7 linked regions of the Homo sapiens genome follow. The protein of the gene in region 7 purifies or fractionates together with the protein of the main gene of each other region. This does not show direct contact. Each region holds a gene or a part of one and is shown on either strand. Other genes may lie near its edges.

What was found.
Region 1: the proteins of RAB18 (region 7) and SLK purify together in Homo sapiens (co-immunoprecipitation; one large-scale study listed by IntAct). This does not show direct contact.
Region 2: the proteins of RAB18 (region 7) and TMCO4 purify together in Homo sapiens (affinity purification with western blotting, with the first as the bait; one study listed by BioGRID). This does not show direct contact.
Region 3: the proteins of RAB18 (region 7) and NCAPD3 purify together in Homo sapiens (co-immunoprecipitation; one large-scale study listed by IntAct). This does not show direct contact.
Region 4: the proteins of RAB18 (region 7) and ING3 purify together in Homo sapiens (co-immunoprecipitation; one large-scale study listed by IntAct). This does not show direct contact.
Region 5: the proteins of RAB18 (region 7) and SRFBP1 purify together in Homo sapiens (affinity purification with mass spectrometry; one large-scale study listed by BioGRID and IntAct). This does not show direct contact.
Region 6: the proteins of RAB18 (region 7) and TANGO6 purify together in Homo sapiens (co-immunoprecipitation; one large-scale study listed by IntAct). This does not show direct contact.

The regions. Positions count from the first base shown.
Region 1 is NC_000010.11:103,973,640-103,977,139, forward strand, and holds part of SLK (STE20-like serine/threonine-protein kinase), read left to right. Parts: intron 1-3,500. UniProt on the Homo sapiens protein: Mediates apoptosis and actin stress fiber dissolution.
Region 2 is NC_000001.11:19,797,117-19,801,171, forward strand, and holds the start of TMCO4 (transmembrane and coiled-coil domain-containing protein 4), read right to left. Parts: upstream 2,801-4,055; 5' UTR 2,739-2,800; exon of another isoform or gene 2,386-2,738; coding exon of another isoform or gene 2,368-2,385; intron 2,234-2,367; exon of another isoform or gene 2,058-2,233; intron 1,100-2,057; 5' UTR 1,021-1,099; exon of another isoform or gene 958-1,020; coding exon of another isoform or gene 955-957; intron 1-954.
Region 3 is NC_000011.10:134,161,468-134,164,967, reverse strand, and holds part of NCAPD3 (condensin-2 complex subunit D3), read left to right. Parts: intron 1-3,076; coding exon 3,077-3,187; intron 3,188-3,500.
Region 4 is NC_000007.14:120,974,777-120,977,716, reverse strand, and holds the end of ING3 (inhibitor of growth protein 3), read right to left. Parts: coding exon 2,873-2,940; 3' UTR 501-2,872; downstream 1-500. UniProt on the Homo sapiens protein: Component of the NuA4 histone acetyltransferase (HAT) complex which is involved in transcriptional activation of select genes principally by acetylation of nucleosomal histones H4 and H2A.
Region 5 is NC_000005.10:122,017,475-122,020,974, reverse strand, and holds part of SRFBP1 (serum response factor-binding protein 1), read right to left. Parts: intron 1,716-3,500; coding exon 1,634-1,715; intron 888-1,633; coding exon 173-887; intron 1-172. UniProt on the Homo sapiens protein: May be involved in regulating transcriptional activation of cardiac genes during the aging process. May play a role in biosynthesis and/or processing of SLC2A4 in adipose cells.
Region 6 is NC_000016.10:68,923,531-68,927,030, reverse strand, and holds part of TANGO6 (transport and Golgi organization protein 6 homolog), read right to left. Parts: intron 1-3,500.
Region 7 is NC_000010.11:27,528,304-27,531,803, reverse strand, and holds part of RAB18 (ras-related protein Rab-18), read right to left. Parts: intron 276-3,500; coding exon of another isoform or gene 189-275; intron 1-188. UniProt on the Homo sapiens protein: The small GTPases Rab are key regulators of intracellular membrane trafficking, from the formation of transport vesicles to their fusion with membranes.

The sequences.
Region 1 (3,500 bases), about 76 Mb from region 7:
ACTATCTTAATAATGAGTTACAGTTTTTTTCCCTAGAAGTGGGAACACAAACTACTTCAAGGATGTTTTAAATACTTTGTTTTTCCTGTTAGAATTTCCTCCTTGTTTTTGTTGTGTACAACCTTTAGTAGCCTTCTGAGAAAGGATCCATGGAAAACATATTTTTTAAGAACTTGCCTGTCTAAATATGTCTTTATTATAAGGTCACAACTTAATATATATAATTCTAGTTCAAAAGTAAGTTTTTAAAGAATTTTTAAGATTTAGAATTTGTTAGTTTTGAAGACTTTCTTCCATTCATTATCTTTTGGCTGCAAGAGTTGCTGTTGAATGTCTGATGCCATTTGGCTTCCTGGATCCTTTGCCATCTTTTTCTCTTAATAGCCTTTAGGATTTTCTTTTATCCTCTGTTCGTGGTGATGTACTTTGATATAGGTCTTTTCTTCTTCTTTCGTTTTGCTGTGCTCTTGGTTGGTCCTTTCAATCCAAAGACTTATGTCCTTCAGTTCTGTGACATTTTCTTGTATTATTTATTTGACAGCCTCCACCCACCACTTCCCCCAATAATGACTCTTGCCATGGTCTTAAGATTCTTCATGTCCCTAAATTCAGGGGACACTTACCATCTTACTTGACCTGTCATTACCATTTGAGATACTTGGCCATTCTTTCCTTTAAAAAGTTCATCTTGGCCGGGCGCGGTGGCTCACGCTTGTAATCCCAGCACTTTGGGAGGCCGAGGCGGGTGGATCACGAGGTCAGGAGATCGAGACCATCCTGGCTAACACGGTGAAACCCCGTCTCTACTAAAAATACAAAAAAAAAATTAGCCGGGCGTGATGGCGGGCGCCTGTAGTCCCAGCTACTCGGGAGGCTGAGGCAGGAGAATGGCGTGAACCCGGGAGGCGGAGCTTGCAGTGAGCCGAGATTGCGCCACTGCACTCCCGCCTGGGCCACAGAGCGAGACTCCGTCTCAAAAAAAAAAAAAAAAAAAAAAAAAAGTTCATCTTTTGGCCTTTTTTTTTTTTTGAGATGGAGTCTCGCTCTGTCGCCCAGGCTGGAGTGCAGTGGCGCGATCTCGGCTCACTGCAAGCTCTGCCTCCCGGGTTCACGCCATTCTCCTGCCTCAGCCTCCCGAGTAGGTGGGACTACAGGTGCCTGCTACCACGCCCGGCTAATTTTTTCTATTTTTTTTTTTTTTTTTTTTTTTTAGTAGAGACAGGGTTTCACCATGTTGGCCAGGATGGTCGCGATCTCTTGACCTCATGATCCACCCGCCTCGGCCTCCCAAAGTGCTGGGATTACAGGTGTGAGCCATCTCACCTGGCCCGTCTTTTGGCTTTTAAGTCACCATACTCTTGATTTTCCTTCCACCTCTGTGTCTGTTCGTCACACTCCTTTGCTGGTTCTTCCTCTTTCTGACTTTAAGGTGTGGGAATTCCACAGGGCTTGGGTATAGGCCACCTTCTCCTTTTCTTAAGAGAACCGGTCTTCTCCCATGGCTTCAATTACCATCTAAGTGCAATTTCTATCTTTACCCTAAGACCTCCCTTTTGAACTCCAGATCCACACATCCAACTGTCTATTAGAGATTTCTGCTTGGATGTCTCACAGATACCTTAAACTGCAAGTCCAAAACATGAACTAATTCAGCTCATGATGTCAGTCACAAATTTGCTCCTTCTGTCTTCCCACTCAGTAATTACCACTTCCATCTACCAGTTGCATAGGCCAGAGACCTAGAGGTCATTTTTAACACCTGTTGCTGCCTTCCCCGCCAAACCTAATTAAACACCAAGGCCTGTTAATTCTACCTACTAAATATTTCTCAAAAATACTTCTTTCTTTCTTCACTGTCATTTCACTAGTCAAAGCTGCTATCATCTCTTAGACTACTGCAGTCTTATTGGTATGTTTTTGGGCTTCATATAATCATTTACATGATTCTTTTAATCCTGTAATCATTTAATATATTCCTTTGTGTTGGGCTTCTTTTGCCAAACATTATATGAATGAGTTTCATCCATGTTGTTGCATGTAGTAGTAATTTGATCTTTTTCTTTGCTTTATGGTATTTTATGAAATATTATAGTTTATCCATTCTGTAGTATTTGGATTGTTTTCACTTTTTGTATGTTAAAAATATGATTCACGGCCCGGTGCAGGGGCTCACGCCTGTAATCCCAGCACTTTGGGATGCCAAGGTGGGAGGGTCACTTGAGCCCAGGAGTTCAAGACCAGCCTGGGCAACATAGGGAGACCCCATCTTTATTTGTTTTATTATTATTATTTTTTCTTGAGACAGAGTCTCACCTCTGTCATCCAGGCCGGAGTGCAGTGGCGCGATCAACTCCCCAGGCTCAGGTGATCCTCCCACCCCAGCCTCCCAAGTAGCTGGGACTGTAGGCACCTGCTACCATGCCCAGCTAATTTTTATATTTTTTGTAGAGACGGGATTTTGCCATGTTGCCCAGGCTGGTCTCAAATTCTTAGGCTCAAGTGATCTGCCCACCTCGGCCTCCCAAATTGCTAAGATTACAGGTGTGAGCCACCATGTCCAGCCTTAAATTTTTTAAATTAAAAACCAAAAAATACGATTCATGAATATTCTTGTGCCTTTTGGTGCACATGTGCCATTATTTCTGTTGGATATATACCGGGAAGGAATTTTCTAGGTCATAGGTTATACATATCTTCCAAAGCGGTTGTACCAATTTACACTCCCATCAGTAGGGTATGGGAGTTTTCCCAGTTGCTCTGTGTCTTCACTTACACTTGGTATTGTTATTAATATTATCTTTAATGTTTTTTGTTAGCCATTCTGTTGAGTATAAGTGGTTTTATTTACATTTTCCTGATGACTAATGAAGTTGAGTGCCTTTTTATGTGCTTATTCAATATTTGGGTATCTTTTTTTGGTGGAATTCCTGGTTATTTGCCCAATTAAAAAAAAAAAGCTCTATTTTGAGGTATAATTTATATACCACAAAATTCACCCATATAATTTTGTGAGTTTTAGTAAATCTGTATAGTTTTGCAGCCATTACTACAATCCAGCTTTGGAAGCTTTCTGTCACCCCCCGAAAGTTCTCATGTGCCTATTTTGCAGTCTGTCTCTATTCCCACACCAAGCTCAAGATAGCCCTTACTTGCTTTCGGAATGGCTCTGTAATTTTGCCTTTTCTAGAATTTTTTAATAAGTGGAAACATACAATATGTATTCTTAATATGTATGGCTTTTTGCACTTAGCACAGGGTTTCTCAGTGTTGGCACTACAGCCGTTTTGGACAGGATAATCCTTTTTTGTGGAGGGCTGTCCTATGCACTGTAGGATGCATCCCTGACCCTACCCCTTTGTGACAACCTAAAATACTTCCAGACATTGCCAAATGTCTCCTGGATGGCAAAATCAGCACCACTGGTTGAGTGTAATTTTTCAGGATTCATCTGTGTTATTCATTTGTCTATTAAAATTTTTGGTTATTTATATTTTCCTTAA
Region 2 (4,055 bases), on a different chromosome or scaffold from region 7:
AGGTCCCCAATATGCTCAAGAGGGCCTCCCTATAGGTGGACATCATTATTGAGCACCTACTAAGCAAACTTGGCCCTGGTCCTGGATGTCACAGGGGTTACAGTCAGGGTGGTGTACAGGGTACAGGCAGGAATTAATCCCAGCAATGAGAGTATAATTCCACCCTGAACTTAACCTCTGACATACCAGTAGAAGTCTTGTGGCCTGGGCATTTGGAGTACAAGTCTGGCTAGGGCTAAAATGTGAAGAATGAGAAGATGTTACCTGGGAAAAGGGAGGCAGGGGGTAGAAGTGGCCTGGAAGAGCAGGTGCAAAGGTCCCAAGGAGGGAGGGGTGGCATGCCTGGGCACAGAGGGCTGTTGATAAGTGGTCTGAGATGCGGCTGGAGGTGTAGGCCAGGGGACAGTGGTACATAGCCTTCTGGTCCATGTAAAAGGTTTTTTCTCTTTTCCTTAAGAAAGTGGGAAGCCAAGGCCAGGCGCGGTGGCTCACGCCTGTAATCCCAGTACTTTGGGAGGCTGAGGCGGGCAGATCACGAGGTCAGGAGTTCAAGACCAGCCCAATATGGTGAAACCCCATCTCTACTAAAATACAAAAATCAGCCGGGCATGATGGTGGGCGCCTGTAGTTCCAGCTACTTGGAAGCCTGAGGCAGGAGAACCGCTTGAACCTGGGAGGCGGAGGTTGCAGTGAGCTGAAATTGCATCACTGCACTCCAGCCTGGGTGACAGAGTGAGACTCTGTCAAAAAAAAAAAAAGAGAGAAGAAAGAAAGAGAGAGAGAGAGGGAGGGAGAGAGGGAGGGAGGGAGGGAGAGAGAGAGAAAGAGAGAGAAAGAGAGAGAAAAGAAAAGAAAAGAAAAGAAAAGAAAAGAAAAGAAAAGAAAAGAAAAGAAAAGAAAAGGAGAAAGAAGAAAATGGGAAGCCAGAGCGGGGTTTTAGGCAGAGGGTGGTACCATGATATCAGGGCAGCTTGAAGCGGAGGTCGGCTAAATGGAAAGTGGATTGGATTTCACTCTCACCCCTTCTGCCTGCTGTCACACGTTCCAGAGAGCCAGTTCCCCACTCCTCATCAGCAGCCCCGGTTTATAATGTACAACACTGTTTACAAAACACACAGGCCAAAAGAGAACACAATGAGAAACCACCCACTGACATTTCTTAGGTCCCACGTTAGCCAGCCCTGGTGGCTGATCAGCCTTTGTAGCCCAGTGGTACCAGAGTAGAGAGAGATGGTTTGAGCCTTATGAGGAACTCTCCAGACCCCAGCTTTTGTGGGAGCTACATGCTGAGCTATGACAACCTAATCGATGAACTCCTCCTGTCCAACTCCTCCTTGGGCCTTAGGACTAAAAAGTATAAAGTCTCCCAAAGTGTCAGATACTGCACTGGGCCTTTTGTGGCTTCAGCTCCTTTAATTTTCACAACAACCTTGGAGACAGGTCATTTAACTTGCCTGATCCCACTCAGTTACAAAGCTGCAAAGCTAGCACCTGAGCCCATCTCTGTCTGATGCTGCACACGAGGGCTTGAGGCCACTCTAATACCGATCTCTTCTGCTGTCTTCATGTACTTCACAGTTGGGGAAATGCCAGTGGTCTCCCCTGTGCCCAGCCCTCCCTCCCCAGGCTGAAGGGCAGGGCTTTATTCCACCCTCTGGAGTGTACTTCCTGAGGGCAGCGCTCCTTTTTGTTCACTGCTGTATCCTCGTTGCCTAAACAATGCACACAGTAGGTGCTCAACAAATATTTGGTGAATGAACAAATGGATGTTCCCAAAGCTTAAAAGAGTGTCATATTTTCTGCAATGAACACTGAGTTAGGAAAAAGGGGGCTCATGTGCTGACTCCTACTTCGAGTTAGGTAGTAGTCTGGGATTCTAGCCTGGCCCTGCTCCTAATTCCCAGTGCAACCCCAGGGAAGGGCCAGGCAGCCTGGTCAGGGCAAAGGCATTGTGGAGGCCAACTCTGTGCGAAGCACTGGGTCAGGCTCTCCAGGCAGGTAGCCCAGGTTTTTATCTCTTGCTTCCTAGCTGTGTGGTCTTGGGGAAGTTACCTCACCTCTCTGAGCCTCAGTTTACCCAGCTGTAAAATCCACTCAAAAGTCAGCAGCAGTAATTCTTCCCTCCTGTAACTTCAGGCATGGGCACCAGAAGACATGGCCTCCTTGTAACATGAGGAGCCTGGTTTTTCTCCAGAGGCTCCCCAAGCCCTCCTGGAATTCTCTGTTTGAGAGTCTGCGGGGGGACAGGGAGACAGGAGGCGGGGGAGTCCTAGAGGCCTTCCTGACGGGGGCGTGGAGGGGCCACGTGGGGCAAGGGGAAGCACAGGGACCTCTTGTGACCTTGGGCAAGCCCCCTTCCTCTCTGACCTTGACCAGCGTCCTCATTTGTCAAGGGAGCGGCTGGGTGACCTCTAAGAACTCGGAGGCCGAGGCCGGAGTCGCCCGAGTGCTCCGCCCAGCCTCAGTTTCCCCCTCTGCCTCCCCAAGATTTCTAAAAGCACTTCCGGCTCTGAAAACAAACCAACCACCAGCAGGCGGCCTGGGCTTAGGGCAGGCAGCGCCAGGGAGCGCGCGGCCGCTTCCTGGTGGGTCCAGTGTCCCCGGGGTGGAGGGCGGGGCGCAGGGCAAAGGGCCCCGGGGCTGGGCCGGGCTCCGAGTGCCCCGCGTGGGGCCGGCGGGGAGTGGCCCAGCGAGGTGCGCGCCACCGTGGCCTGGCGGCTCCTCCGGGGCCCCCTTACCTGGAGGCGGCTGCGAAGGCAAAGGCGGAGGCGGCAAAACCGGCGAGCGGCTCCTCCCGCCCGGCCCGGCCCGGCCCCTCCCCTCCCCGCCGCGTCCCGGCCCCGGTCCCGGCCCGTCCCGCCGCCTGCCCCGAGCGCGCCTGGTCGCCACCGGCCGGGCGGAGCACTTAGGGAGCGCGGCGCGGGGGCGCGGGGCCTTCCAGGCTCTGACTCGCCAGCTGCGGGTCCCGACCTGGCTCGTCCCACCTCTGCCCCACCTCCACCACCCATCGCGACAGGGGTGCCGGCCTCTGCAGGTGACCGGCAAGCCCGCGGCGCCACATCTGTGTGTGGGTCCATTTACCCTCCAGGAAGCAGCGAGACAGCGCGGCGCGGGAGAAGGGCCCTGCAGGGTTGGACTTTGCAGAAACTGCCCGCGAAGGACTCGGCCCCGAGAGTGGCATGCCCCAAAGCCACATTTTGAAGACAAAGTCTTCAAAAATGTATAATGTAAACAAAGAACCAGCCGCAGAAACCGCCTTCCCGCACGTGTATGCAGCACTTTGTAGTTTGCAAAGTGTTCAGATATCTAAGTTCTTCCTGATTCTACTTTCATTTTCCCTAACGCTAAGTTTGGTCCTGTCTCAGGGCCTCTGCCTGGAGGCTCCCGTGCCTGGGACTCTCTGCCTTCAGACCTCCCTTTCCCCCAATCCATTTCCTGCTTTCCATTCTGGTCTCTTGGGATGGGATCTGAGAGTCTTCCCTGAGCACCCAGCACATTCAGTCATTGAACAAATTTACCGAGCACCTACTACGCGCCAGGTACAGTTCTTTTTTTTTTTTTTTTTTTTTTTTTGAGATAAGAGTCTCGCTCTGTCACCCAGGCTGGAGTGCACTGGCCCGATCTCAGCTCACTGCAACCTCCGCCTCCCGGATTTAAGCGATTCTCCTGCCTCAGGCTCCCTGGTAGCTGGTACTACAGGCGTGTGCTACCACACCCGGCTAATTTTTGTATTTTTAGTAGAGACGGGGTTTTGCTATGTTGGCCAGGCTGGTCTCGAACTCCTGACCTCTGGTGACCCACCCGCCTCGGCCTCCCAAAGTGCTGGGATTACAGGCGTGAGCCACCGCGCAGCCCCAACTAGACTTTAAAAGCCCTGGAGGTGGGCGGGTTTAGGCTGCCTTGCTCTCCGCTGTGTGCCCAGCCCCAGGGACTGTGCCTAGCACTTGCAGGTGCTCAAAAGAAGCACTTAATGAATGGATCTCTTTCCCCTAGCAACCCTGTGAAATTTCATCACACCCACTCTGAAGGAGAGGAAACCGAGGCTCAGGTCCAGA
Region 3 (3,500 bases), on a different chromosome or scaffold from region 7:
CTAAGCTTATGTCACAAGTGAGTGTGCCCCTCCCCCTAAGCTCATCTCACAAGTGAGTGTGCAGCTCCCCCTAAGCTCATGTCACAAGTGAGTATGTAGCTCCCTCAAGCTCATGTCACACGTGAGTGTTCAGCTCCCCTAAGGTCATTTCATGAGTGTGAAGTTCCCCTAAGTTCATTTCACGAGTGTGCAGCTCCCCCAAGCTCATGTCACAAGTGAGTGTGAAGCTCCCTAAACTCATGTCGCAAGTGAGTGTACAGCTCCCCTAAGCTTATTTTACAAGTGAGTGTGCAGCTCCCCCAAGCTCATGTCACAAGTGATTATGCGGCTCCCTCAAGCTCATGTCACAAGTGAGTGTGCAGCTCCCCTAAGCTCATGTCACAAGTGAGTGTGCAGCTCCCCTAAGCTCATTTCACAAGTGAGTGTCCCACTCTTCTCACCATCTACTGGCTTCCGTGTTCTCCCTGGAATCCTGGTGCCATGCTCTGGTGCTGACTTCTTTCTTACTGATGGCTTTAACTCTTGCCAGATGGTGACAATTCTCAAACCTGTTTCCCACTCCAGCATTTCTCATGAGCCTGAGCTCAGGTCCCCCTGCTGCCAGGACGTGCTCCGGGTGTCTCTGACTTACTCTGTCAAAACTCCCTCAGTCATCTCTTCTTTCTGCTCTTCATCTCCTCTTTCTCCCACAGTTTATGGTGCTCTTGCAGACTGGAGTCTGGTGTGTCAGGCTGAGGCTTTTGTTGGCAGGAAGTGTAGAATTTGGATCTGAATGACTGGGGCAGAGCTTGGCTGCCACAGGCCTCTGCAGGCCTGTGTTTTCCTCCTAGCCTGGATTGCCAATGTGTATTTCCCACCTGGCCTCTGGAGGCTTTTGACTCCAAGGATATAGACTCTGATCATATCTTGCCACAAGATCCTGCCTGTTTTCTCTTACCAATCTATCTCTCTAGTTCTGACCTTATTTAAGCTTATCCCATTTCCATGGTTTCCTTACCACCCTTTCTGTTTCTGGTTTCTTTCTGTCACAGGCCATGTACCACCTTGCTGCCAGAGCAGTCTTTCTTTCTTTTTCTTTTTTTTTTTTTTTTTTTTTGAGACAGAATCTCACTGCGTCGCCCAGGCTGGAGTGCAGTGGCGCGATCTCAGCTCACTGCAAGCTCCGCCTCCCAGGTTCACGCCATTCTCCTGCCTCAGCCTCCCGAGTAGCTGGGACTACAGGCCCCTGCCACTGTGCCTGGCTAACTTTTTTTTTTTTTTTTTTTTTGAGACACAGTATCACACTGTTGCCCAGGCTGGAGTGCAGTGGTACGATCTCTGCTCAGTGCAAGCTCTGCCCCCCTGGGTTCATGCCATTCTCCTGCCTCAGCCTCCCTAGTAGCTGGGACTACAGGCACCAGCCACCACGGCCGGCTAGTTTTTTTGTATTTTTAGTAGAGATGGGGTTTCACAGTGTTTGCCAGGATGGTCTCAATCTCCTGATCTCGTGATCTGCCCGCCTCGGCCTTCCAAAGTGCTGGGATTACAGGCATGAGCCACCACACCCAGCCCAGCAGTCTTTCTTAAGTACAAATTTGATCATTTTATTATATCTGAAACAGACTAAAGGCAGGTTGACTGTGAGGGGTGGCAGGAAGCTTTTGGGTGATAGATGGTGAGTGGTCTGTAGTGCTGGTTATTCCATATAGACTTTTGTCAAAGCTCATGGAAGTGTTTGTTTAAAATGGGTAAATTTATTACATATGTTATACTTCACTAGTGAAATCTTTAAAAACTATGCTGGTGGCTTCCTGTCATCTTCTGAATAAACCCTGATTCTTCTTTTTCAAGGTAAACAAGAACTTCTGGTGTGCCTTCCACCTTTCCCATACCTCCCTCCATCCTCACCTCTAACCTCTCCACTTCAAATTGCCATCTGCACCTCAGTTGCGAGCTGCCCCCTACTCGTGTGCTCTTGCCTCTGGGTCTAAAGTCTGCAGCGCCCTCACCCACCCATCCTCCCTTCTCCACACATCCTCAGGATCATCCATCAGATGGCCATGCACTCCTTAGGCATCCCATCTCCATACCTAAATTCCCTAACACCCTGCCACTTAACACCTCTTCCCTTGAGACACACACTTTCTAGAAGTGGCTGGAGGGCAGGGATGCTTAGCTTCATTTTGCATCCTCAGAGGGTTAGCTCTTTGCCTGGACAGAGAAGGTGCTTGATAATACTTGTCAAGTGAATGCATGGAAGCCACTTCTTAAGACTATTCCTGAACATAACATCTGCTCACATCTGGGTTTATTAAATTGCTTATTTCTCTACTTGTTGTCCTTCTGTTTCAGGAACTCTGATAAGACTTTTTAGAAATGAGTAGTTTACAAGGAAGAAACATACACTAGTGACTTTAAATGAGAAGGAAAAGAGTAGTTTCAGCTTCAGGAGGATAAATCTTGCATATGTGGGCTACTATAGTGCTTTTTTTTTAATTTAAAGAGATTCACTGGAGAATATTTGTGGTTAGTGATCATTCAAGGTAAAGTGTGAAGACTTGGTCAAATCAGGTACTATATATATAAATTCATAGTATTTTGTAGATGTGTACACAGAGAGAGAGACAGAGCTGGCTGTCTTCATGCTTAGCCATTTTTAGACCATTGTCCCTTCACCAGCAGGAATACGAAGTGTCCCTCTGGGTAGCCAGAACGAGCTGACTTCTGTTCCAAGGGGAGGGTGTTGAATTGAGGACTGAAGGTGGAGCAAGAGCCAAGGTCCCTCAGGGTCTTCTGTGGAGATTTGGGGCTTTTGTCAAAAGCTACTCAACATGTTTCTAATTCTTTTTCCCCATTTAGAATATATGAGTAGTATTTGTCCCCACCCTATCTTACAAAGCCTTCAGAGTGTTTTGAGGTAATGCTTACAAAGTCTCCCAGAGAAAAGCAGAGGTCCTCTACATCCAGTATCATAATGAAAAGCAAAAATAAACTTACATAGTGTGGTAGGGTGGCTCTACTCAAAGAACTAGATCAAGGAGAGGCCTGTCTTTCAGAAGTTCATACATCTAAAACATGTCTTTGTTTGTGTTACCAGGTTCAGAAGAGGAATTTCATAGAAAATATTATTCCAATTATCATCTCCCTGAAGACTGTGCTGGAGAAAAATAAGATCCCAGCTTTGCGGGAACTCATGCACTATCTCAGGGTAAGGGTGGAGCCTGTGCTTTTGTGGTTGTTGTCCTACCAGTTCATTACTTAGGATCTTCTGCCAGTTATGACAGTGCAGGCAATCCGTGAATGATTAGAACCCCAAATTCTGCAAACCCAACATTACCTTGGTAACTGCTGTGGAGCTAGGGGTTGGCTGTGGGTTCCACCAAAGCCGCTCTTTCCCTTGGATGTGCAGCCAGGGCCGTGAAGAGCCGGCCCACTGTGCCAAGCACGTCTTCCCTTAATGGAGTTCAAGTCCATCTGGAAAACTTTCCCAGCTGGGGTCAAGAACACAGTCATCTTCGTTC
Region 4 (2,940 bases), on a different chromosome or scaffold from region 7:
AGTGTTCTCCCAGTGCTTTGTGTATCCATTACAGCATTCATCAAGATAACACATTTAACATGTCTGCCCCCACCAACTCCCCCCACACACACATATAATACCTTCATCTGTATATTCTCAGAATCTAGGTGCTTAGTATTTGTAAAGTTAAAGAATATTTTTAAGGGTCTTTTTTTCTCTTAAAACCCATCTGCTAAAAAATAAATGTATTTTTATCTGTGAGAGCTGAGGGGAAACCATTGCAATGTCTACACATTAAGGAGTATCTTATACCCCTTTATAACCCAAGTTTGTTAGACATTTATTTGCATAAGATTAAAATAATTAATTAGGTCAATAAGACCATTCCTAAAGTCTAAAGACAAAGGGCACTAATATTGCACAAACCTAAGATGGTTAAAAACCTAAAACGTGGAATTTGCTTTAAAGGAGAAGAGAACAAAAAAATATAAACTGCCCTTGAAAAGAATGATTGTATGCTTATCAAACACTCAGCCTCATTTTGGCATTTAATTAAGCCATTTATTGCTTCAAATGTGTCACCATGAACATTTTGATATACACTCCATAGCAGTAAGGCCTCAATTTTCACCACCTGTGAACTGTGAACCCACATTTGGATATTTTGTCCCAACTGTTACATGAGTTTTGTACAACAGAGATTTTGAATGTGTATTTTATAATACCAAAAATACTTACTATGCCCCTTGGTGTAAATGTCACAAAGAATATTAATAGTTGGCCACATTTTTGGGGGGTTGATGAGGTAGTTCCATGTTTGGCCCCATTATATATGACTCAGATATTAACAGGTTCTACCCATTACTAAATACCTGCACCAAATTTTGGTTTCTTTCTTTACACATGCTTCATAAAATATTCAGTGTTTGAGTTTAAAACTTGTCAAAGTGTTTTCTAAGTGATTTGGTAAGGAGTGGAATTCACACTGAAAGGGGATGTAGCAGCTGGATAACAGGATGTTCCTGACTCAGACAAAGAACTTTCTCTTCAAATAAGGCTGTACATAAGGCTTTTTCCTTTGACCATTTCTATAAAATGAATGAGTTTGGAATAGTCATAATATATAGAGGATGTAAATGATACATGTGAGCATTTCCAGGCAATATACTTTGATAAACGAATTGAATACTACATTATTTATCACTTCTTAAAGGGTTATAAAATCTCAAAATATTGAGTATCATGAAATCGTGATAATCATGATATTATGAAATGATGAGTACTCACAAATGAACCTAACTTGTTTAGGGAGCTGGTAGAGTTGTATAATCAGACTGTGGCAGCTCAGAATCATGGGATCTCAAAGGTGGAAGAGATCTTTGAAATCCCCTATCTACCTCACACCCTTTGGGTAGCACTGCATAGATTTTACACTGTTATCTGAATAAGTTCTAAGAAGCTCATAAGTGGTTTAATTAAAGCAGAAATCTGATGGACCCAGTAAGTTTCAATATAAAATATATATGATATATTAAGTATCTTAAAAGTTAAGGATTTTTCTATCGACCAGACTCAATATTATACTTTAAATAAAACCTCCACTATGCAAATTTATAATTTAAATAGCACCTTAGAATAAGATCTATTCTGCAGTCAGCATCACCCTGGTGTAGTAAGGCCCAGAGTGATACAAAATTTGAATTAACTGTCATATCAGTAAGTGGTAGAATCAAAAATAGCTCAATTTGGAGCTCCCGACCAGGGGGGTCTCTTTACTCTATTTGGCTACATTGCCTCCAGTCAAAACACCCATAACCATTATTTTCGTTTTAACTGCTATACTTACACTTCTTTCATGTCTTTTAGACTGAAGGAAAAGCCAGATGATGTTCTTAAAAAAATACATTGGCATTTCAAATTTACATTAAAAATGTCTTTCCTGTATTCTTATATCACAAACTCTAAACATCATTAAAGACATCACAGATTACACAGTATTCTGTGTCCTGGGTCTCTGATTCTTTTTAGATTATGAAAGTTGAAAGTTAATTGGAATTCAGAAATTTTCATTATTAAGTATGTAAAGTATAAATACAAGTAATTTTTTAAAAACTTTATTTTAACACCTAATACAATTGCAATTTTAAGGATTACTTGCACAAAAAAATAAACACATTTGGTATAAAAATGTATCACTTTAACGCCCTTTCCCCTTCAGTCCCCCGCCCCCTCCCTCATGAACTGCACTCTATCTGGATGCAGAAACATAGAAAGACTAATGGCACAAATTACTTTTTACCTACAGGAGTTTCTGTTTATGTACCCAGGTACTCTAGAGGATACCAGCCCACATTATCACATGAACCATTTCCTTCAGCCTGCTGAATTAGTTTCACAAAGAAACAAAGCTTATTATAAAGGCATTTTAAAAACCATTATCTTAAATTCTTTTTAGAAGCACTGACTTTTTTTTTTTTTTGCAACCATTTATATACAGTGTTACATAACAGCTCTGGAGTACAGTACATGCAGCAGAATATACCTGTTGAATATAAAATACTTTCCTTAAAATCTTCATCATTGGAATTCCTTGAAGTCTAAATCATAGAATGCCCATTACTTTGAGAAAATGGTTGAGGAGTACAAATGTCTGCATATGTTGGCCACTGAAATAATCCAAGGCTAACTGGAATAATATTCATAGCACACCAGGAGTGCATAAATAATTTACTTACATTATTAAAATACAACCCATAAAATTCAAGTTCAAGATCTTATAGGATTGTCTATGTAAATCCTTTAAGTGGTTGCCTGGAAATGCATTGTTTCTTCTTTCTCTTCTCTTCTTTTTAAAGTCCTATATAAAATCTTCAGCTGAAGTTTATTTCTTCATCAAACAAAAGGACCACCTTTATTTGTGTCTGCTGCCTCTTCTCTTCATTGCAGCAGTGCACTGTGGACAGTACCATTTGCCTTTTG
Region 5 (3,500 bases), on a different chromosome or scaffold from region 7:
CATATGTGTATCTGTACCTAATACCCCACTACAACCTTGGAGAGGGCCATGTCTAAAAACAGGATGGGTTGTACAAACTAGAATTATAGTCTCTTCATGTATGGACAAGTAGACATTTATAGCTTTTTAAAAAAGAACTAATGATTATTTCAGAATAGAAAAAGAATCTTACCTTCTAGAGCTTTTAGATCCAGATAAAGAGTGGAAAAACACTGATTCTAACTTTCTGGTTTCTGTACTTGGCTTGATTTTGTCATTTCTTGTATCCCCATGAGTTTCACCTGTATCTTCTTTAAGAAACACTTTTTCTAGTGGTTTTTGTTCCTTAACTGAAGAATGACAACTACTTTCCTTCTTTCGTGTCCGTCTGACTTTCCCAATGAAGAAGTCGTCACCGCTATCACTATCTTCAGACATGGAAGACTGCTTGTAAAACCTTTCTTCTGTGCTATCATCAAAATATTCCTTCTCCTCTTCACAAAATTCTTCTCCGCCATCACTGTTACCAGAGAGTGAGCTATCAGATCCTTTGTTTTTTTTGGTTTGACTTAGAGTTTTCAGTTTTGGGTCAGCAGGTGTCTTCTGGGACTCAAGGGAAACTACAGAATCCTTTTCTGAAGGCTTTGATGGAGAATTTGCAATAGTCACTGCTTTAGGTCCATGTTCCATCTTTGCTATTTTTTCCTTTGAATTATGTATTGGTTTCTTCGCCAATATTTTGGTTTCTTTGACTTTTTGCTCACTGATGACAGTTGCTTCACGCTGTAAATTACTTCCATTATCATTTGAATACAAAGTATTCTCAGAATGATTGTCCTCTGAAGCATTCTTTGATGACTCAACTTCAGCAACATTTTGTCTTGCTTCTTTAAAGGCTTGTACAGCAGCTGCAAGAGAAACAGTGCATCACTCATTTTAGCACTGAAACATATAAAACATGACTGTTTTAGGACAGTATTTTAAAAAATTATTTGAAAAGATTTAAGAGGGCAGTTGGAATTGATATTAAATACATATACTCGGTCTGAATTCACAAAGAAATCTTTCGACTTCTTAAAAACCAAACATAAGATATGCTCAGACGTATTCATTTTAAATTGTGAAAATGAAAAGAAAATGTTTTCTTCATGTCTTGGAGTTATGAAGAACAGTAAAAACATCACAGAATACAAATAAAAGGGAATGGCAACTTTAATTTATATAATAATAATGCATTATTATAAACTGTGCTTTCAGACATAAAATTCAGTATCATGTGACAAAAAAATTTCATTTTATAGATATATTTTATAATAAACATATATAAAATTATGTTCCTAAGTGGCGAAACCAAAACTAATGAGTTATGTCAATATTTTAAAAAAACTATTCAACTTTATCTTGTATATATTATATATAAAAAGATATATATTACGTATTATACGTTCACATATTAGAATTTACTAAACAATACAGATTTGGTTTTTCTTCAGAGATCACACTTTCTGTATTTTCAGACACCTTCCACACTGGTAAATATTTGAAAGAAACTTATATTTATAATAGAACCTCAAGAGTTAAAATAAGTGAATAGCCATTATCCAAAGTCTACAAATACATTAAGTACATGGCTTAAAAGTCATTTAATTCATACCTTTTAGCACATCTATCTTTTTCTTCAGAAGAGGATGTACTGCTAGTCTGGCAATTGCTCTTTCAGTTGCAGTAGAATCTGGCTGCAAATTTAAAAATATAATAAACGTATGGGAATGAAATAAAAATGACACTATTGAAAGTGAATAAAATAAAATCTATCATAGTCTTTAAAATTAGAGTTGGAGAATAGAACTAGTTAATATTCTCCTTAGATAAGATATCTGTATAATCAATCCATGCTAAAGACAAAGATCATCCTGACAAAAATATTACTGCCTTTGAACAACTAAAATTATCACTTAATCATTAATAAATATTCTTTGGATACGATACTTAATATTCTCAGAATTGTGATAAGCACCATGTGTAACATCAAAAAAAGAACATAGTTTTTACTATCAAAGAGCTTGAACAATCTAATTAAGAAGACTAAATTAATATCAAAGAATCAAATAACATATTAGTGCTAAACTGGGTGAGACTACTGTAATACTTGAAGTTCCATTTAACAGAGACCTAGAAATTATCTAACGCTCTATATTTCTATTTTAAATGTCTACTATCACTGACACGTTCTCAGGGCCTAGACTGAATGGGAACATTATATACAGTATTCAATATATTTATAAATTTGGAAAAATCATAATGCCGGCTAATGACTTGAAATGCCGTATGAAGGCTGACAACATCTAAATTTCGACCTCCAGCTCCAACCTGAGCTCTAAGCTGATACATCAAACCACCTAACCTGACATCTATTTGACATTGTCAAAACAGAATTCTTTGATTTTTCCTCACAAATCTGCTTCTCCTGTAGCTTTTCCATCTTATTGTATGTAATTTCCATTGTTCTGGTTGCTCAGGCCTAAAACTCTAAGGATTCTTTCCCACTATTTGTCTTTCCCTCAAAACTCACAATACACCCTGTGGTTCCAAATGTAAAATATATCCAGAACCAGTCGCTTCTCACCATTTCTATTCTTACTACCTTTGACTAAATCACCAACACCTCTCACCTGGACCAACATAATTAAACTTATGCCTGGTCACTCTCCTTTGCAACTTGCTCTCTCAACAGTCAATTTTCCACACAACAGCCACGGTGATTTTTAAAAATGTAATCAAATCATGCTATTTCCATATCTGTTCTTCTTTAAGCTTTATTGCTTTCTGATGCTTAGCCCATACCATTGCAATCTCTTCTTTACCTGGAATACTCTACTCCCAAATATATACACGGCTGATCATCTCACTGTATTCAGGTCTCTGCTTAAATGTCATCTCAACTAGCACAACACTTCCCATCACTATTTACTTCACATCACTTACCACTGCATGGCAGTGTAGATGTTTTCATATCTGCAAAGCAGAGACTTTGTTTGCCTCATTGCTGTAGATTCAGTGCCTAGAATAGTGACTGGTAATAATAGTAGGCACCCAATACACATTTAATAAAGCAAGTGAATAAATTTCACTAGTGTGTGAAAGTAAAACAACCAGTTTCAAATGTCTTTATCCTAAATTTACCCTTCATTGTGAACAGTCAAATATAAGACATTTCCAACCCAGTATTATAAATGTACGAATACCAAAATAAAAACAAGATGATGGCAGTATGCAAGCTATTCTGTTTGTAGGATTTATGTGAGTAATGTCACTCAAAGAATAATCTATTTAAATTACACCTGGTGCAAATCCTGTGCCAGGACCATCTGCTATTTAATTACCTTGTGTACTAGGTTGAATCGCGTCCCCTCAAAATTCACATCCACCTGGAAACTCAGAATGTGAACTTATTTGGAAACAAAGTCTTTGCAGATTAAATTATGTGGAATCACAGTGGATCAGGGTGGTCTTAAGCCCAG
Region 6 (3,500 bases), on a different chromosome or scaffold from region 7:
TATATAACATTTTATTCTCCATGGAAGCTTTGTCTGAATAATGTCATATGCCTTACTACTAAGAAAGGTGCATGAGTGTTACAGCTCTATTAGAATTTGTCTAGCAGGTTTTCTGGTCTTCACTGGAAAGCACCCCCCTCACCCACTGCCACCCAAAAGGTGTATGTGTGATCAATGAAAAGTAAGAATCAATGGTAATACTTTTCTGTTTGAAAACACTGGAGAAATTATCAGATGAGGCTTCAGGAGACCCTGAAAATTTGAATACCTTAAGGATCTTAAGTCCTTTTTACTGGCCAACATGGCGAAACCCCACCTCTACTAAAAATACAAAAATCAGCTGGGCATGGTGGCATGTGCCTGTAGTCCCAGCTACTCGGAAGGCTGAGGCAGGAGAATCGCTTAAACCCGGGAGGCAGAGGTTGCAGTGAGCTGAGATCACGCCACTGCCCTCCAGCTTGGGCAACAGAGCGAGACTCTGTCTCAAAAAAAAGAAAAAAAAATCCTTTTTATTTTTATTTTTTTCTTTTCTTTTTGGAAACGGAGTCTCGCTCTGCTGCCTAGGCTGGAGTGCAATGGCGTAATCTCGGCTCACTGCAACCTCCACCTCCCGGGTTCACGCCATTCTCCTGCCTCAGCCTCCCGAGTAGCTGGGACTACAGGCACACGCCACCATGCCTGGCTAATTTTTTATAGTTTAGTAGAAACGGGGTTTCACCATGTTGGCCAGGCTGGTCTTGAACTCCGGACCTCAGGTGATCCGCCCACCTTGGCCTTCCAAAGTGCTGGAATTACAGGCATGAGCCACGGTGCCCGGCCGAGACATTTTCAAATAATTATACTAGTATTATCATTATGCTAAACTTCATTCAGTGCCTCGGTTGTATCATGGACTTTTTTAAAGCATCTAAAATGAGAATAATTTACCTACAGTCTATTTGGCCTCTTTTTTAATTTCTCTTCTATATAACAATTTCTTCTAAAAAAAAAAACCAGCCAAGACAAATAGATCAATGGGACAGAACAGAAAGGCCAGAAATAGACCCAGATAAATAGAGTCAACTGAACTTTGACAAAGGAGCAAAGGCTTTAAATGGAAAAAAAAATACAGTTTCTTTTTTCTTTTTTTTTTTTTTAATTGGAACAAGTGTCAGTAGAAAAGACAGTTTTTTCAACAAATGGTGCTGGAACAACTGGCATGCACATGTGAAAAAATGAATCTAGACACAGACCTTGCACCTTGCACAAAAATTAACTTGAAATGGATCATAAACCTAACTGTCAAATACAAAACTATAAAACTCCTACAAGTTAACATAGTAGAAAATTGAGATGACCTCTTAAAAGCAATGACCTTTTAAATACAACAGCAAAGGCATGATCTATGAAAGAAATAGTTAAAAACCTGGACCTTATTAAAATTAAGAATGTCTGCTCTGCAAAAGAAACTGTCAAGAGAATGAGAAGACAAACTACAGAATGAGAGAAAATATTTGTAAAAGACATATCTGAAAAAGGACTAATATCCAAAATATACAAAGAACTCTTTAAACTCAATAAGAAAATGAACAACCTGACTTAAAAATGGGCAAAAGACCTTAACAGATAGGTCTACCAAAGAAGAATACCCTACCAAAGAAGATATACAGATGGCAAATAAGCATAGGAAGACATACTCAATGTCATAAGTCATTAGGGAATTGCAATTTTTTCTTTTTTTTGAGACAGAGTCTTGCTCTATTGCTCAGGCTGGAGTGCAATGGCACAATCTTGGCTCACTGCAACCTCCACCTCCCAGGTTCAAGCGATTCCCCCACCTCAGCCTCTTGAGTAGCTGGGACTCCAGGTGCGGCCACCATGCCTGGCTAATTTTTGTATTTTTAGTAGAGTCAGGGTTTTGCCATGTTGCCGGGGCTGGCCTCAAACTCCTGACCTCATGTGATCCGCCCACCTCAGCCTCCCAAAATGCTGGGATTACAGGCGTGAGCCACCACACCAGGCTTCCCACCCACCCCTCTTTGCATCCACAGAGTTCTCAATCCTGGGCATGGCAGAAGCACCTTGATCCCTCCCTGATCAAGGGTGTGACCTGGGATCCCTGGCCTCGGGCTGGACAACCAGGTGCCCACAACCTGTATGGGGGTATTTACTCATTGAACATCTAGCCCCTGGGGTTGTCCAGGGAAATGCACTGGGTGGCAGCAGCTATGTGAGGAGTTTGTTTCTGTTTTCTTTTTTTTGAGACGGAATTTTGCTCTTGTCACCCAGGCTGGAGTGCAATGGCATGATCTCAGCTCACTGCATCCTCCGCCTCCCACGTTCAAGCGATCCTCCTGCCTCAGCCTTTCAAGTAGCTGGGATGACAGGTGCCCGCCACCATACCCGGCTAATTTTTTTATATTTTTAGTAGAGATGGGGTTTTGCCATTTTGGCCAGGCTGGTCTCGAACTCCTGACCTCAGGTGATCTTCCCACCTCAGCCTCCCAAAGTGCTGGGATTACAGGCATGAGCCACCGTGCCCAGCTGAGGAGCCTTTTTTTTTTGAGAGGGAGTTTCACTCTTGTTGCCCAGGCTGGAGTGCAATGGTGTGATCTCAGCTCACTGCAACTTCTGCCTCTTGGGTTCAAGCAATTCTCCTGCCTCAGCCTCCCGAGTAGCTGATCTGGTCTGGAACTCCTGACCTCAGGTGATCCTCCTGCCTCGGCCTCCCAAAGCACTGGGATTATAGGCGTGAGCCACTGGCACCTGGCCAAAGCTCTGAAAATCTTTAACGATGTGTATAAATGAGCACAATGAAGACAATTCCAGAAATAGATGGTTTAATCTCAAAAGCAAAAGAATTAGAGAGAACTAGTCAGCTTAGTTAACTGGAAAGTCATTTTCTTTTTAAGTTGTAAAATTGGAGGCACTGTGGTTTGCAAGTAAGGGCTTTTTTAGCCAGTTTGATCACCTGCATACAAGCAGTTGAAGGATGCCTCTCCACTCTAGGGAAATTCTGATAAAAGACTGGATTACCTAGAGGATAATCAAGTGAAAGCCTGTGAAAACAAGAAGCATGGCTCTCCTTTGCCCCTGATAACACATGACTAACATTCACAACACTCCCATGGGTGTGCCCAGATCTGGAGGTTGCTCACTATGGGTGAGGGCAGTGTTTTTCAACTTTTTGAGCTCATGCCCTTTTGAAAAAACAAAACAAAACAAAACAAAACAAAACAAAACAAAACAAATCATGCCTCCTTCATTAGACATCACCTTTCCTTTCTTCCTTTTATTCTTTCTTCCTTCCATTTATCCATCCATTCAAAAACTGTTAATTAAGTACCTACTGTGGCAGGTTTATTAAATATGGCAGAAAGTAAGACATCTCTAAATGAGGCTGCTTGAAAGCAACAGCAATTAAGAAGGATTGTCTGCTCTTTGGAGTTCTATATAACAGCTTGAAATAATGGGAATTTTCCCAAGCAGTTCTATAGAGCACCCAAATTGGGCTCGGTGAA
Region 7 (3,500 bases):
AGAAAAAAAAAAAAGAATGAACCTATTTAACAAGCCTTTACTTCCGGGCCCAATTCCTTCTCTCTCTTGTCTTTCTACCATCCTTGGACTATGGATTCAAGGTACCTAAGATTATACAAAGCAGCTCAGCCCACCACCTGTTTTATTAAATAAAGTTTTATTGAAACACAGCAGGCCTATTTGCTTACGTATTGCCACATGGCCCACTTCAGGATTGGACTATTTCCTATCTGGCTCTTTAAGAAAAAGTTTGCAGTCTGCTGATGCAAAGTAACCTAAAGAAAAGTAAAAGTAAAAACATGTATCAAACCTCAACTTAGCTACCAGTCCCACTGCTGTAAATGAGGGTTTGTTATGGGACAAGCAGAAGCTCCCCCAGATATAAAAATGTTAGAATAACCTGTAAGAGGTTTATAAGATTGGAGAAGAATTCAAACCAGGGGCGTGAGGGGCTTCAGCAAGACAGTAGGGAGGATCTGCAGTCATTTATAACCCCAGAAGAGAAACTTAAGAGGAAAGTAACGTTTCAATGTAAACCACTTTGAACATTCACCACTCTTCCACAGATACACTTACATAAATTTGAAAGCCTTTCCTTCCAGATCCTTACCACCACAGAAACTAATCCCCACCCTGCCATGCTTAAGTGAAGAATTAACAGATTTAAAGTAAATGTTCTGAACAGATAAATTTATAAAATAAATAATTTTTCTCTTTACAAAAATTCTCTCTGCCTCTAAGTTTCTTACAAAACCTGCCTTGGATTTTAAAATTATTCAATTTGCATATTTACTCACCTTTTCAAGAACAATAATATAAATTAAAAGCTGTTTAAAGCAAAGTGAACTTGCTATATAAAGCAGATTATAACTTTGATAACATGAGACAAGTCAATATTGTAGTCCATTAATCATTAATGAAACGGTATATGGATGCCCAGTGATCTTTTTTGATCACTATGCTCAAGTAATCAAAACCCAAATTTGCAGGGAAAAAAAAAGTAATCAACTAGAAGCCAAAAGATGTAACTACTATGCATATCATAGTAAAATGATTACTATGTGTATCAGTAAAAGTGTCACCACTTTTAGGAAGCAATTGGTAATATATATAATAAGAAACTAGAAATGCTCTTCATAGCCTTGTACTAGTACCTATTTCAGACAATCTGATTCATACTCAATAAAAAATGTATATTTTTAAATGACAAATCATTATGAGAACGTATCCTAGCTATCTGCTTACATGCAAAAAATGACAAATTAGTAATATTCAAATTATTCAGTATCCAGATACATTATAACTTTGAGAACTGCACCATGTTAAGCATTTAACTTTTAGTAGTACAGACTATCTGTTTTAGAGAGAAAGAAAAAAAAAAAAGAAGGAAAAGCCATTACTGAAAAGACAAGCCTTGGATTTGGAACAGTGAATTACTGAATTTGGAAATTTAAGAAGCAGCTATTTTTCTATACAGTGAATTAGTGAATTTGGAAATTTAAGAAGCAGCTATTTTTCCATACATGGAACACTGTTCTATATTCATAACAAATAGTTTGAGGCAAGGACCAAGTATGAAATATTTTAGCCCCAAGACTTTTTGATAACAGGAAGAAAGTTTATTCTATTTGCATAAGGAAACTGTATCCATAACTTCCAGAGCTGGCAGAAAAACAAGTGAACATGAACTTTGTTCTCTCTGGTCTTCATTGAGATCAACTTCAAAAACTGCCTTAATGAAACACAACATAAAAATCAGAACTGCAATTCCAGTTAAAATATCCATAAATCCTGATGTTTTAAAAGTAAAAACCATAGCAAGAAAGTTTTAATGTTGAAATATTACACTTGACTTTGAAACTTTGCTTGTGAATATTTATTAATAATTAGGCCAGATGTTTAGAGGCTTGCCATTTTTGGATTCACTTACAAAAGTGTTTAAATAGGTGTTATAATTTAGGGGGTGGAGGGAACCATGTGCAATAGCATCGCATCAGGATTTATAGTAACTATAAAGTGTATATGCTTAAATAGAAGTTAGATTGTTGCTTGTGTTTGTTTTCAAAACAGGAATATGTGGTAGGTATAATAACATCTTTGTAAGATAAATGAAGCACAGCTTTTTGTCTCTATCCTGTAGTTTTATTTTCTGATGGGGGAAGGAGAGAAGAAATTACTGAAAGATATATAGATAAACTCAGGGCTAGGAAAGATCTAGAAAGGCTTAATAATAGATGTAGGGAGTGAAAGTGAAGCAAGGACATAGGAAAAGGCAGTAGAAGAAAACAAGGTCATGATGAGTATGCACTTTCAGGAGGTAGGAGGGGCAGGGCTATGCTTAATTATTCTATTTCATCCTAGAAGAAGCTTCCAAGTAGGAGAGAAACTCATTTTATAAATAAAACTATAGAAGAATTAGGCAACTATGGATTCATATATTTCTAATACAGAGGAAACGCCTTCCTAAATACGTTACACCCAAATGCCATGATGAAAATAGCTGATCCAACCATATAAATATTAAAACCTTGAAATGACAAGAACACCCTTTACCTCCTCTTCACCTCCCCATCCCCATATTCATCCTTAACAATATTGGAAGGTAAATGACAAACTGGAAAAAAAAATCTGTAGCATATGGCAGTATTACACACACACACAAGAACACAAACATATATTCAACTGATACATGATTTTAAAGGCAAATGATAGCTTAGAAAATTGTACCACATGACAAAGAGCTAATAATTTTATTATATAAAGACTTTAATGAAGAAAAAGATGAATGCTAACGTATAAAATGGGTAAAATATGTAAAAAGAAAACTTATTTTTTAAAATGATCAATAAACAGGCAAAAATCTCTTATCAAAAGAAATGCAAATATAAGTAAAACAGCAACACTCAGAGGCAAAAACAGAAAGAATGATAACAGTAGAGATAAGGATGTGGCAGAATGAATATGAATACAATTGGTGGGAGTATAAACTGAAAAAAAAGGCTTTTTGGTGTACATTAATGTGAAGACTTCATATTCATTTCTACTTCCAGCTACACATTCTAAAGTAACTGGACAAGTACACACAGACGTATAAATCAGGATGCTCAAAGAGCTGTAATCTTTGTGAAAAGCTGGCAAAAATGTAAGTATCTCTCACTGAAGGCTGACTAAAGTACAGCTATGAAACGGAATACTAGCTGGCCATCTAAACGGATACAGCACATACTATGAGTGGGGGTGAGGTGGTAGGAAAGGAGGACAAACAGGTTTAAAAATGTAAGATATAATATAATCCCTTTGTTTTGGAAAACTCACATACTGGTATGTATAGTGGTATGTATACATATCCCTTGATATTTTAAAGAATGCTCACTAAAATGTATTCAGTGGTATACTTTTATAGATGTTCTTCTCTGCTCTTCTTATTGTCTCAATTATCCCTTTTAGAATGACCCTGTATTATTCTTACAGCCAGGGGGAAAACCTCTCTTCTTTAAAAA